Linked DNA regions of Homo sapiens: regions 2, 3 and 4 are each reported to be linked to region 1. Evidence: microRNA targets listed by miRTarBase, many of them from high-throughput screens and not tested one by one. Region 1 holds a microRNA gene; each other region holds the end of a gene's coding sequence.
Evidence for each region. The annotated mature microRNA hsa-miR-324-5p reads CGCAUCCCCUAGGGCAUUGGUG and lies in region 1 at 2,231-2,252, opposite strand. An mRNA with a match to its seed (bases 2 to 7 or 8) in the 3' UTR can be bound and repressed. Matches are read on the target gene's strand: a 7mer-m8 pairs with bases 2 to 8, a 7mer-A1 pairs with bases 2 to 7 and ends in A, and an 8mer does both.

Region 2: the mRNA of LARS2 is a reported target of hsa-miR-324-5p. Seed matches in the 3' UTR shown: 8mer at 1,382-1,389.
Region 3: miRTarBase lists KLF7 as a target of hsa-miR-324-5p. Seed matches in the 3' UTR shown: 8mer at 795-802.
Region 4: miRTarBase lists DEF8 as a target of hsa-miR-324-5p. Seed matches in the 3' UTR shown: 7mer-m8 at 2,544-2,550.

Annotation. Positions count from the first base shown.
Region 1 is chr17:7,221,113-7,224,112 of GRCh38, forward strand. It overlaps MIR324 (microRNA 324), which reads right to left and starts at 2,267; the gene lies at 2,185-2,267. ACADVL (acyl-CoA dehydrogenase very long chain) reads left to right here. Exons shown (of 20, transcript NM_000018.4): 7 at 426-570; 8 at 840-969; 9 at 1,065-1,190; 10 at 1,555-1,753; 11 at 2,021-2,125; 12 at 2,532-2,618; 13 at 2,701-2,763; 14 at 2,856-2,957.
Region 2 is chr3:45,547,010-45,550,101 of GRCh38, forward strand. It overlaps LARS2 (leucyl-tRNA synthetase 2, mitochondrial), which reads left to right. Exons shown (of 22, transcript NM_015340.4): 22 at 342-2,398. The coding sequence ends at 521. Among named protein-coding and RNA genes, the nearest start is that of LARS2-AS1, 39 kb to the left of the region's middle.
Region 3 is chr2:207,078,540-207,081,631 of GRCh38, forward strand. KLF7 (KLF transcription factor 7) reads right to left here. Exons shown (of 4, transcript NM_003709.4): 4 at 1-2,725. The coding sequence ends at 2,674. Among named protein-coding and RNA genes, the nearest start is that of MIR2355, 30 kb to the right of the region's middle.
Region 4 is chr16:89,965,461-89,968,552 of GRCh38, forward strand. DEF8 (differentially expressed in FDCP 8 homolog) reads left to right here. Exons shown (of 13, transcript NM_001242818.2): 13 at 401-2,600. The coding sequence ends at 503. Among named protein-coding and RNA genes, the nearest start is that of SNORA119, 14 kb to the left of the region's middle.

The DNA of each region.
Region 1 (3,000 bases):
CAGCTCTTTTGCCATAGACCTAGAGACTAGGGCTAAGGTCTCTTCTAAGCACCTGCCCTGGGTGCCTGTGGGATGGATGTTAACTGTCCAAACATAACACAATTTACATGCAGTCCCCTAGGCCTGAGCCATGGGCCTCACCCTGGTTCCCAAGTCCTTACAAATCTCTAAGTTGGGGATTGCCTAACAATAGACTGACTAGTAGCAAGTCACCCTCCTACCTAGACCTAAGACAGACCAGCATTCTCTGCTGTGCCCTTTGCACACCCCACTTCTTTTCTACACACTGGGGATGGCCCAGGTCAGGCACTGCCCTAGGTCAGGAACTGCCCTAGGTCAGGAACTGCCCTGTTGCCCACACTCTCCTGTTAAGGTCAGGTCCCCCTGCAGCCAGTGACAACCCCAGATTCCTGCTTCCCCTCCAGTACGCCCGTTTGGTGGAGATCGTGGGCATGCATGACCTTGGCGTGGGCATTACCCTGGGGGCCCATCAGAGCATCGGTTTCAAAGGCATCCTGCTCTTTGGCACAAAGGCCCAGAAAGAAAAATACCTCCCCAAGCTGGCATCTGGTGAGGCAACCCTAGGAGAGCCAGGGATTGGGGGGCACACTGGGCTTGGCACAGATTAGGCCAGTTGGCACTTAGATTATCAGATGGCTGAGCATTTCAGTTGGGGGAAGGTTTTGGGGAGGCATCACAGTGTGCTGGTTGGGACATGCAAAAGAACTGGATACTCCCAGGTGTTAAGGGGGAACTGCCTGCTGGAGGGATGGGGAAGTGGGCCGAGGGGACTTTGAAGCTCATCAGAACTTGGGGTAAAGTAGCTCTCTCCCCAACAGGGGAGACTGTGGCCGCTTTCTGTCTAACCGAGCCCTCAAGCGGGTCAGATGCAGCCTCCATCCGAACCTCTGCTGTGCCCAGCCCCTGTGGAAAATACTATACCCTCAATGGAAGCAAGCTTTGGATCAGGCAACCTGCCTCCCATTTCTCCCCTTCTCCTCCGCCCAATTCCAGGCCCCACTGCTCCCCGTCCTCCACGCCCTGAATATCCCATTCTTCCACAGTAATGGGGGCCTAGCAGACATCTTCACGGTCTTTGCCAAGACACCAGTTACAGATCCAGCCACAGGAGCCGTGAAGGAGAAGATCACAGCTTTTGTGGTGGAGAGGGGCTTCGGGGGCATTACCCAGTGAGTGAATTTGGGTTGGGGGAGCTTAGGACTGAGGGGCAGGACTGGGCTCCTGGGCAGATGGCTGTTGCAAGTCACCCTGGGGACGTGTGCAAAAGCCAAAGCAGGTGGACTGAATGTGGCCTTTGGGACTAATATGTATGCAACTGAGCTAAAGTTTTGGCTCCAGCAACCAAGTCCAACACAAAATAGGACATAGCCAGGCCTCCTTAGCCCTCAGGGCCTGAGGGGAAGTGGTGGCTGTAGCCTCTAATAGTCTAGTGGTCGTCATTCCTCCCTGGTGCATAAGGAGCGAAGGAGCAGTTTTTCCCCCAGTGACAACCTGTTGAACACACCTCTGCTTTCCCACACTGCCCTGACACAGTGGGCCCCCTGAGAAGAAGATGGGCATCAAGGCTTCAAACACAGCAGAGGTGTTCTTTGATGGAGTACGGGTGCCATCGGAGAACGTGCTGGGTGAGGTTGGGAGTGGCTTCAAGGTTGCCATGCACATCCTCAACAATGGAAGGTTTGGCATGGCTGCGGCCCTGGCAGGTACCATGAGAGGCATCATTGCTAAGGCGGTGAGTACCCTGCCCGAGTCCCTAGGTAACCCAAACAGAAGTCTCACTGTCCCCCTTGCCATGTGTCCCTGATCACTTGCAGGCACTCCCTACACTAGAAACTCCTCCCCTACCAGCAGCCCGACTTGCTAGCTTAGGTCTCCATCCAGCGTAGACTGAACTCTGGTTGTATGCAAAACCCATCCCTCTGGCGCAAGCCCAGCCCCTCTCCTAGGGAGACTGCAGAACCACACTGAACCACAGCGGGATGTGTGGACCCTCTTCCAGGTAGATCATGCCACTAATCGTACCCAGTTTGGGGAGAAAATTCACAACTTTGGGCTGATCCAGGAGAAGCTGGCACGGATGGTTATGCTGCAGTATGTAACTGAGGTGAGGGCCTCCCAAGCCCCTCTCCCTGGAGCCCTGGGGCTTTCTTCCCAGTCGGGTCAGACTACAACCCCCAGCAGCACCTGGGGCAGTGGGTCTCCAGCTTTACACCAATGCCCTAGGGGATGCGGGGAGGCATAGTCAGCTCAGCTTCTGCGAAGAGAGACAGCAATGATGTTCTGCTCAGGTGCCTGCCAGCAGTACCAGAAGTTAATTCTACCTCATCCCTTACATCCACCCCTTTTAAGAAAACAAATACCTGGAAGCACCTGATGAACTGACCCAGAACAAGTATCTGCCTGACCTGACAAGCTAGGTCAGCCCTTATCTTGGAGATCTGGGTGATGAGGCCAAGTCTGACAAAGCCCTTTGCAATTTTCCTTCCCATGTCCCAACTATGCAACCTCAGTCCATGGCTTACATGGTGAGTGCTAACATGGACCAGGGAGCCACGGACTTCCAGATAGAGGCCGCCATCAGCAAAATCTTTGGCTCGGTGAGGTCCCAGGCATGCTGGGAGGGAGTCCAGTTTGGGTGCTCAGCTCCCAAAACCAGTCTCATCTGTTCTTTGTCCCTAGGAGGCAGCCTGGAAGGTGACAGATGAATGCATCCAAATCATGGGGGGTATGGGCTTCATGAAGGTACAGGACGGTCTTCTGCAGAGCCTCGGCTGGGCCAGGGGTGGGTAGGCACATCTCAGCACGGGCATATAATTTGTGTGGCCCTGTGCTAGGAACCTGGAGTAGAGCGTGTGCTCCGAGATCTTCGCATCTTCCGGATCTTTGAGGGGACAAATGACATTCTTCGGCTGTTTGTGGCTCTGCAGGGCTGTATGGTAAGACAGAGAATTGGGTGGGGGTAGAGGTGGGGAGGACAGT
Region 2 (3,092 bases), not on the chromosome of region 1:
GCCCAAGCCATCTCATGCTGAGGCTTTTTGACATAATCTCTACCACAGCTGTGTATGGGAGCAGTGCTCAGAAAATGCAAGGCGGTCCTCACTCCACGTACGGGCACTCACATGCAGTCTCAGTGTCGGTCTCTTTCTGCAGGTCTAGGCATTAATCCTATTCAGCTGGTTGCATTTTACCCTTATGGGAAGCAGAGTGCTGACTTCCTCCTTTCTCCACCTCTATTCCTTTCCCCTAAACAAATGCAGCCATGCCCTTTACAGGCAGGAGGTTTGGTATTGGGCCGCCTGCCACTCTGAGGATGTTCCTCATTGTTTATCTTGGCTTTTCTCCTTCTCAGATCAACAATAAAGCTTGTGGCAAAATTCCTGTGCCCCAACAAGTTGCCCGGGACCAGGACAAAGTCCACGAATTTGTTCTTCAAAGCGAGCTGGGTGTCAGGCTTTTGCAAGGACGAAGCATCAAGAAGTCCTTCCTTTCCCCGAGAACTGCCCTCATCAACTTCCTGGTGCAAGATTGACAGCCAGGAGGCTGCAGCTACCACGAGGGCCTCTGAGGAACCTCCTTCCAGGCCTGGGATGAGGGGGCGATGTCTGCTGGCCCAGGGGAAGGGAAAAGACAAATGTCTTGACTGTTGACCTCGGTCCTGTGGCAGACTGCAGTCAACAGTGTGCCTCTGTAGTGTGGCCTGGTGCTGGGGTGAAGGTGAGCTGGGCAAAGGAGAAATATGAGCTACTGAGGAGGGGGTTGGACATCCTGCCCCTCACCCCCCACCCACACTGCAGGTAGAGGAGGCCATCTGATCCCATGGGAAGCCATCAGAGACACTGCTGGTGGGAGCAGGAAGGAGCAGTGCCCCTCGAGCAGCCAGGAAGCCTGCGGATCTGGGAAATGGCTCTGCCTTAGGCACTTCTCGGGAATTTGAGGCCAGCCTGAGGAACTGCAGGACTCAGGTGCAATGTGCCAGCCACTTGGAACTGCTAACTGAGCCTCCAGATGGTAGTGAATGGTCTCTTTGCCTTCAGGCTGGATGAGGAAGTCATTTAGGAAATGTTCAAATAACCAATATGTGGAAATGGACACAGGGATCTTCTGAAGTTGCTTTGAATCAAAAGGCAGGCAGTGCTGGTTCCTCTGCCTGTGTCCCCACCACTCCCCAGCTCTGTCATGCAGGCCTGTCCTCCCCAACCCCAGCTGGATGTGCCTCCCAGGCCTGCTGTGGTTCTGACACACAGGATCCCAGGCAAGGCACCACTTCCTCACATGAATGAGGAGCAGCAAGTCATAACCACTCCCTTGGGTATACAATTTGCTGTGTAGTGAAGTGGAACCAGGCTCAGGCTGCTGGTCCCAACCTCAGAGCCCCACCGCAGCCCAGTAGGGATGCAGCACGCCCCAGAGGGCTCATGTGGGCCCCAGATGGCAATGCCACCATTGTTGATGTGACTCCAGAGCCAGTTATTAGGAAGAGCAAGCTCACCACAGAGGAGTGGAACTGAGGCCCCCCAGATGTTGCCTCCGGTGTCCAAGCCACAGCGGTCTGGCTGTTGGGAAGATGGCCAGGAATGGACTCATACCATTGGCACATTAGGCTAATCCTGGTTTTATGTGAAGTCAGCAATTAAGTGTTCCCACTAGAACTGACCTAAGCCACTGATTAATATTTAATGAGGGAAGGTAGGGGAGAATCTAGCCATTTTATAATGCCAGAAATCTATATATGTTATCTGATGCCATTTTTCTGAAGTAGCCTCACATGTGGTCCCCCTGCAGTTCAGCAGTTAACAGATGACTTTTTTAGTGTAATAAAATGTTTATCATCTATGACTTCAGGACATATGTGTGATCCTGGAATACACCATATTCCAATTTCAGAGTTAATTACAAACAGATTGAGGTATTCCATCATCATCGGAAGCATTGGCTGTGTGTCTGACTCCACATGGAATGCTATAAAGTGGGATACATGTGGTTCTTCTTGTTCCAGAACTTACAGTCCATGGTAGACAACACTGATACAGGCAAACTAGCAACAGCAATTAAGTCACTGGTTCTCAGACTTAATACTCTGCCTGGTCCTCATGCCCAGATATTCCAATTTAATTGGTCCATGGTGTGGCTTGAACACCAGGAATCTTTAAAACTCCACAAGTGATTCTAATGGGCAGCAAAGTTTGAGAATCACTGGACACATTGATGCACTTGAGCCATCATTTCTATCTAGTTCTTCCTCTTCCTAATCTTCAGGTTAGCGGGGATAAGTTTGGTCCAGGACCAAGAGTTGGACCAAAAGGGAAGACAGGGGCCAGAAGTCTAGAGTGCTAGAGCCGACTTGAATGTACTCAGTCTCATTGCACATGGCAGTGAATATGGATTAAATATAAGCCCATGAAAATATTTGGTACAAGGAAGGAGTGAGTGATTTTGATTATCTTGTTATTTCCTAGTAAGCTAAGTGGTCTTGAACAAGATGAGGGAAGGGAGCCCTTTATTTGCATGTGATCTGACCAGAGCAATGGGCCAGTAAAGCCTCAAGGCTGCTAGACTGACCAGCTGGCTGACACCAGCATGGCTCTGAAGAAATTGCTCCAAGAGGATAAAGCTTTTGCAAACAAGAGCTCATCAGTACATACTAAGAGACAGTATGGGTAATGGAACAACTGGACAGAAAACTCTGACCCCTGGGAGTGAGGTGGTGGGGAATAATCTCAGCCATTTATTGACTGTCTTGTTGAGGTCAGAAACTGGACTCAGCAGGTTCACAATAATTATCTTATTTAATTCCCACAAAAACTCTAGAGGGAAGGAATTATTCTCTCATAAAAGAAGAAACCCAGGCTCTGAGGTTCAATAATTGTCTCAGTTTTCACAGCTAATAAGTAGGAGAACTGGGATCCAAGCCCACATCTTCTGTCCTCCACGTTTGCCTCCCCGCCATGTCTACCAGTCCCCTCACCTAATTGTCCATGTTACTTGGTGTACACAGTCAGGTGAGATGGCTCCCAAAACCACTGGCATTTTGAGCAGAGTGTGGCTGGGGTTTCCCTCCTGGAAAGCCTGTAAACCTGGGAAATCACAGAGGTGGTGTCCT
Region 3 (3,092 bases), not on the chromosome of region 1:
AATAGCATTCGAGAGGCAAGAGCAGCTCCAGCTTGGGAGAGAACATTTGCAAATCGTGGTGGCCATGGCTTAATGCCATCACTGGCGTGTGCGTGCATTCATGCTGGAGGCTGCTACATAAAGGAAAAGAAAGGAACCAACAGAATTCAGGGTGTCTAAAAGTTTCATCTAGTGCACTGACTGGAGGCGCTACAGTTTAATACAGCTGAGGTTCAAGGTCCCTCACACATCCTTCATCCAGGAAGGATGCACCACACATTCAAATATAATCCCATGGTACGCCCTGATGGACTGGCCACAAAATGCACTCAAATGCAGCAGAGAACTACGAGATTGTCAGCAAGCAGTGCTCCAGAAATTGTTTTTAAGTCATGTCTAGTTTTAAATCTTTGGAATAAAACTGATTTTTAATACCCTCCAACTAACATACATACAATTGCCTCCGGCAAATGGACAGATTTTGTGTGTGTGTGCGCGTGTGTGTTAACGGGTGTTCTTTCTTTTTTTTTCGTTTTGTATTATTTTGTTTTTTTTTTTGTTTTTGTTTTTGTTTTTTTTGGTCTAAATAGAAAAAAGGAAAAGGAGAAAGTAAATTCTTAGGGCCAGACCTCGAAATGCCCCAAGTGTCCAATTGGCAGCTATAGCATTTGTGAGGAGGTTCCTTTGCCCTCAGACGAGTAGTTTCAACATTTCAGTGAAAACAAAGGTTGCAGAAAGCTGAAAACCCAGATCTTGAAGGTTGCTGTCATATATGTGTTTGTGTTTCTTATATTATTTCCTTTTGACTTCAGTTTTGCATCCCAAATATGTATGGGGTGGCATTTTAACAGTCAATGAGTCAAACAGTCAAAGGAGGACAGGAGGGGAGCCAGCTGGTAGGAGGGAGCAGCAACCGTGTGTGGACCAAGCGCCATTTTTGTTTTATAGACGTGTCTTGAAGGGATGGTCCCAGAATATACAAAATATACAATCTGTCCTAATAACCACCCCGCTTGCTTGCATAGGCCATTTGATGGTCCTAAAGGCAGTCTTTGGAGTTGAGGCCAGTGCCAGCTAGCTAGGAATGCGGGTAGATAGAGACCACTACTGGATGTGTGAGTGTGGCATGACAAGTAAGGACTGTAGACTCCTTTGGAGTCAGCTTGCAGAGTAAATGTGAGGCCTCTGTTAATCCTGGGGGTTCTAGGTCACAAGTCATGGTGGGCCTAGCCAAAAAAAAAAGGAAAGAAAGAAACGTGTCTCTCCTTTTAGACAGCCCATGAGAGAAACACCTCAACCTTTTCCTTAAATGTCAACCCTTCACTCCCACAATGGCGTTTTAAATTGTGTATTGTAACACGTAGGGGAATAGGAGCTCAGTGGGCATGACAGAGAAGACAGGATGATCTTTTGTGAAGCCACTAGACTTGGGAGGCATCCTCAGTTTTCCCCACTCCTGGAAAGAGTGATATTTTTGGCTTTTTGTCAGGTCATAAACCAGAGTTAAATTAAATACGCAGCTGCCCTCTGAGACTAGCGACATCTATGCTGTAACTGGTTATGGGGTAGCAATGACACACAGCACAACGGTTGATCACTATGAGCTGAGGTCATCATGCCTCAAGGAGGATGAGAGAACTGTGATGTCCCATCTGACTGGCTGCTTCGAGAGCTGGACATCCAGGTGCCGAGAGAGTCCTGGAGAGGTTTAGTCCATGGAGAAAAGATAAAACATTTAAGCTTCCAAATAAGCTTTTCAAGTTTTCGTTAGCAAAAACGGAGAGATTAAAAAGAAAAAATCTAGCACTGGCAATAAGGTGAGGCTCAAGGGATATACTGTGATTTATCATCAAGGACTTTATTCTCTTGGCCACTTTGCAGTCATGCTAGAAGTTTCCAGAATCCCTAGTGCATATGGTGTGCAAAAGTCAAAACGTAAGAAAAGAAAACTCCTCCCTTGAGAGTGAAGTCTACAGAAATGCAGGCCAGAAAGGTGTAAGGTGTTATTCCAGTCTGCCGCCGCTAAGGCCGTTGGGATCGACGCGAAAGATCTCAATAGTACTAAGAACCAAAACCAGTCAACAGTTCTGTGAGGAAGTCTGACGCACGGAATAGTAGGACTTTTCACACACAAAGGACAAATAAACCAAGAGTTAATTTTGGCTACCAAACTGCAATTTGGTTTTCTAGGTCATTTTCCCCCAACTATTTAAAAAGAAACATTAGTGCTACACATATGCAACTTTAAGATGCTGGATTCTCCTATCAAGTTGCACTGAGAAGCAAGTGAAATAAGCCCCTCGGACTGCCGTCCACCTGCACAGACGTCACATCCATTTTCTTTGATTTCCATTGGCAACAGCGGGAAATAATTCCAATAGTGCTGAAGTAAGCAGCCAGTCTGCCTTGCTGAGTTCACCTGGTTTCCTTCTTCATCTTCTTCCATCTGGCTAGGGCAAGGCATAAAGAATAGACGTATATATTTTAAATATAGTTGAGTGCATGACAGTGTGTATGTGTGTGGGTCTGTGAGTGTGTGTATATGTGTGTGTGTGTGTGTGTGTGTACAGAGGTTTATAAGTGAGAACTTTCTTCTGCGAGGCAATGGGTCCCCGCCTGAAGTCCAGCCCCCTGCCTCATGGCGTTTCCTTTAGACACTAGCCGATGCCATGGCAACTCTGGCCTTTCGGTTTTTTAGATATGTCTCTTCATGTGGAGGGCAAGATGGTCAGACCTGGAAAAACACCTAGGAGATATAAACAACAAGGATATTAGAGAACTCCCAGCAAACAGCTTGACTTGCATCACTCCTTAGGAAATGATTTCCCTTACTTTAAACAGAGACAGTGCACATGCATTGAGAAACAGGGCCATGTGTTGGGAAGGTAAGTTTAAGGGACAAAATGTTTGGGTTTAAATCCTATCTCTTCCAATAGCTGTGTGACTCGGAGCACATTAACCTGTCTGTACTTTAATTCCTCCTCAGTAGAGTGGGGATAATTATAGCATTTACCTCATAGGTGGGTTGTGAGGATTAAATGAGATGATCTATGCAAGGTACTTAGAATACGGACTGGCACATCGTAGGATCTCAGTGCATGTTAACTGTTATG
Region 4 (3,092 bases), not on the chromosome of region 1:
TGCTACGTTCTGTTTAAAAGTTTGAACTAGGCTGCGGTGCCCCAGGGTGCCGTGATGTACAGTTTGGGAGCCAGGGGAGGGATAGGAACAGGTGGGAATCGTGAGGAAGGGCTCTGAGTCGAGTCTGGCGTGGCCACCTGGCTCAGCCCCTCAGCTGTGTGAACTGGGACCTGTGTGGTTGGGGGATAGCAGGTAGCGTGAGGACCCCTGGAGGTCCACATCTGCACGCCCGTAAGCGCTCTGCACACGGCCATACAGTCACTTGCATCTGGCTGCAGACTCCGACTCTGCCCTTTGGTAACGGCTGTAGAGGGGATGATAGGAGCTGACCTAGGACGCTTGGGGGGATTCAGTGCTGGAGTTTCCTGTGCAGAGAGCCCCGACCTCTTTCTGCCCCCAGGGACTGCTACTACGACAACTCCACCACTTGTCCCAAGTGTGCCCGGCTCAGCCTGAGGAAGCAGTCGCTCTTCCAGGAGCCAGGTCCCGATGTGGAGGCCTAGCGCCGAGGAACAGTGCTGGGCACCCCGCCTGGCCCGCCAGGACCCACCCTGCCAACATCAAGTTGTTCCTTCTGCTCCGGAGACCCCTGGGGTGCGGCCCTGGCCCCCTCCACCCCTGCTGGGCCAGAGCGGGTGGGCAGTGTCAAGGCCCGCTGTCTCCCAGGTGCTTGCTGGGACTCGGGGCGGCTGCACCTGGCTGTCACCTGGGTGTGCTGCTGTGAGGGGTCCTTGCGTGGCCCCCATCCTTCCCCCAATGCAGAACTCCATGGGCAGGGAGCTGGGGGGACATCTCACCTCCCCCATGGCACAGAGCCCTCCACACCCCTGGACCAGGGCATCCGGGCCCTAGAAATTCCACAGCTCCCGTCCTGGCCACCCTGGAAGCTCATCAGGCCAAGACCCGGACAGAGCTTCAGAGGAGTGTTGAGTGACACCTGAGGATGCGGCTGCACACACTCAGCCAAGGGCCGAGTCTCACCTGCGGTGGGGTGTCGGCTCTGCCTGGGGGCTCCATCCCTTTCAGCCACTCGTGGCCTTGGGGATTTCTGGTTGTCCCCAGCTGGGACTGTTCACAGTTGTCACCTGCAGACCTGCCTCTCCCTGGCCTGAGGTTCAAAGGCCTCATCGGATGGTCAGTACAGTGGGGTCACCTGTTGTTTCTATACAACAGCAGGGAAGGGGCCATGGAGCTTTTCCCTGCTGGGTGCTCCTGCTTTGGCCCAGCCCACCTTTCCTGGTGCTCCAAGCTAGGAGGCTGTGGCCCCAGCCTGAGGAGGGTGTCCTGGCCTCCAGGTGTGCAGCAGGGGCTGTGTGCTGGGGGAGGTTCCAGTTAGGCGATGGGATCCTGCAGTGGTCTGGTGGCATTTCTTGGAACCAGATTTACCTGAGGAGCTCTGTCCTGCTCCCTGTGGAGGGCTCCAGATAGCTCAGAAATGACCAGCCAATGGCCTTTTGTTTGGGGGCCTGAGGTCAAGAGAGCTGAGAGTATTCGCTCGACTGAGCACATTCAGGAAGATCAGGGCAGGCGTGTGGGAGGTCCCTCACTCCACGGGACAGAGGCCCCTGGGCAGCAGAGGAAACCTACAGCTCTGGGTGAGGGGACACTTGGCTTTGGTGTTTGCACTTTACAGATCCTGCGGTCCACGAGGGGCCTCAGGAGAGGACGTGTCAGGACGTGGCTTCCCAGCCTTCTGCCTTGGGCAGTGGGGGTGCTCCTGTCTGTCCTTTTCCCCCACACCCTGGACTGTGCTTGGCTGTTGGTGCACATGGTTGGCACACGGTGGGCAGAGGGCAGAGAATGCCACTGCTTGGTTATTGGTCCCCTTTGACCAGGAAACCCAAGAGGAGACACCTCAGTCAGCAGAAAGGCCACCTGGCTCACTGGCTCATTCCAGGAGTGGGAGAGACGGCAGGGTCTCCTCTTTGTCCTCCGGCATCAGGAAGGGGATGGTGTCCACTCCCCACTGTGGTGGCTTTAGGCAAGGTTCTTATTGTCTGCTCTGCCTCGGTTTCCCCATCTGGAAAATGGGGGCAGGGGTCCTGACCTACCTCAGGTGGAACGGTGAGCAGGGAACATGTCGGAGTCCTTCAGAGAATGTGATGTGAGGTTGGATCAACAGTGTGGGTTCCTGTCCTGTTTCCCCTTCCTCTTTGGGGCTGAGGAGGAGGTTAAAGGCCAAATGCTGTTTCCCAACACCCCAAAGTCTGCACACGTCTCATGAATGCATCACATTTCTGTCATATGGATATTAGCCATTCCGAAATCTGTGTAATCAACTTCACATTATTCAAGTTACAAATCACTGTGTCCATAGAAAAACTGTGCTGGTATTTGCTGGACAAAGGGTTGGGCCCCTTTTATTTTTACCTGCCACCCAGCATCTCCCCCACCTGCCCCTTCTGGGTGACACAGCCGGTAAACGGAATCACGTATGGTTCTTTCTGTGGGTCTGTGGCACAGCAGGAAGAGCCCGGTGCCGCCAGCACCTTGTGGAAGACCACACATGGGTGGTCCCACAGCATGGGACCAGGCTGGCCTGAGGGATGCCCAGTTGTAACAATGCTGCTGTCACTGTCTCATTAAATATACATCCTTTAGCCTGGTGTGTGTGTGGTGAATTGCGGACAAAGTAAGAGAAATTGGTCTGTTGACATACAAGTCATTTGCAGGCTTAGGAAAGACAGCCTTTGCCATCCAATGGGGTTGAATGTAATCTGGTGTGAGGCGAAGTAACATGTCCTGATTGGTTGGGAGAACTACCTGTGGTATCACACAGACGTGTTGAACGTCTCTGGGCCCAAGCTGTTCTCCGGCCTCCGCCTCCCGGGCCCAAGCTGTTCTCCGGCCTCCGCCTCCCGGGCCCAAGCTGTTCTCCGGCCTCTGTCTCCTGAGTAGCTGGGACTACAGGTGCATGCCACCATGCCCAGCTAATTTTTTGAATTTTTATTAGAGACAGGGTTTTACCATGTTGGCTAGGCTGGTCTCAAACTCCTGACCTCAGGTGATCCTCCTGCCTCGGCCTCCCAAAGTGCTGGCATTACAGGTGTGAGCCACGGCGCCTGGCCAGGCATTGATTTTTCTTAGTGTCC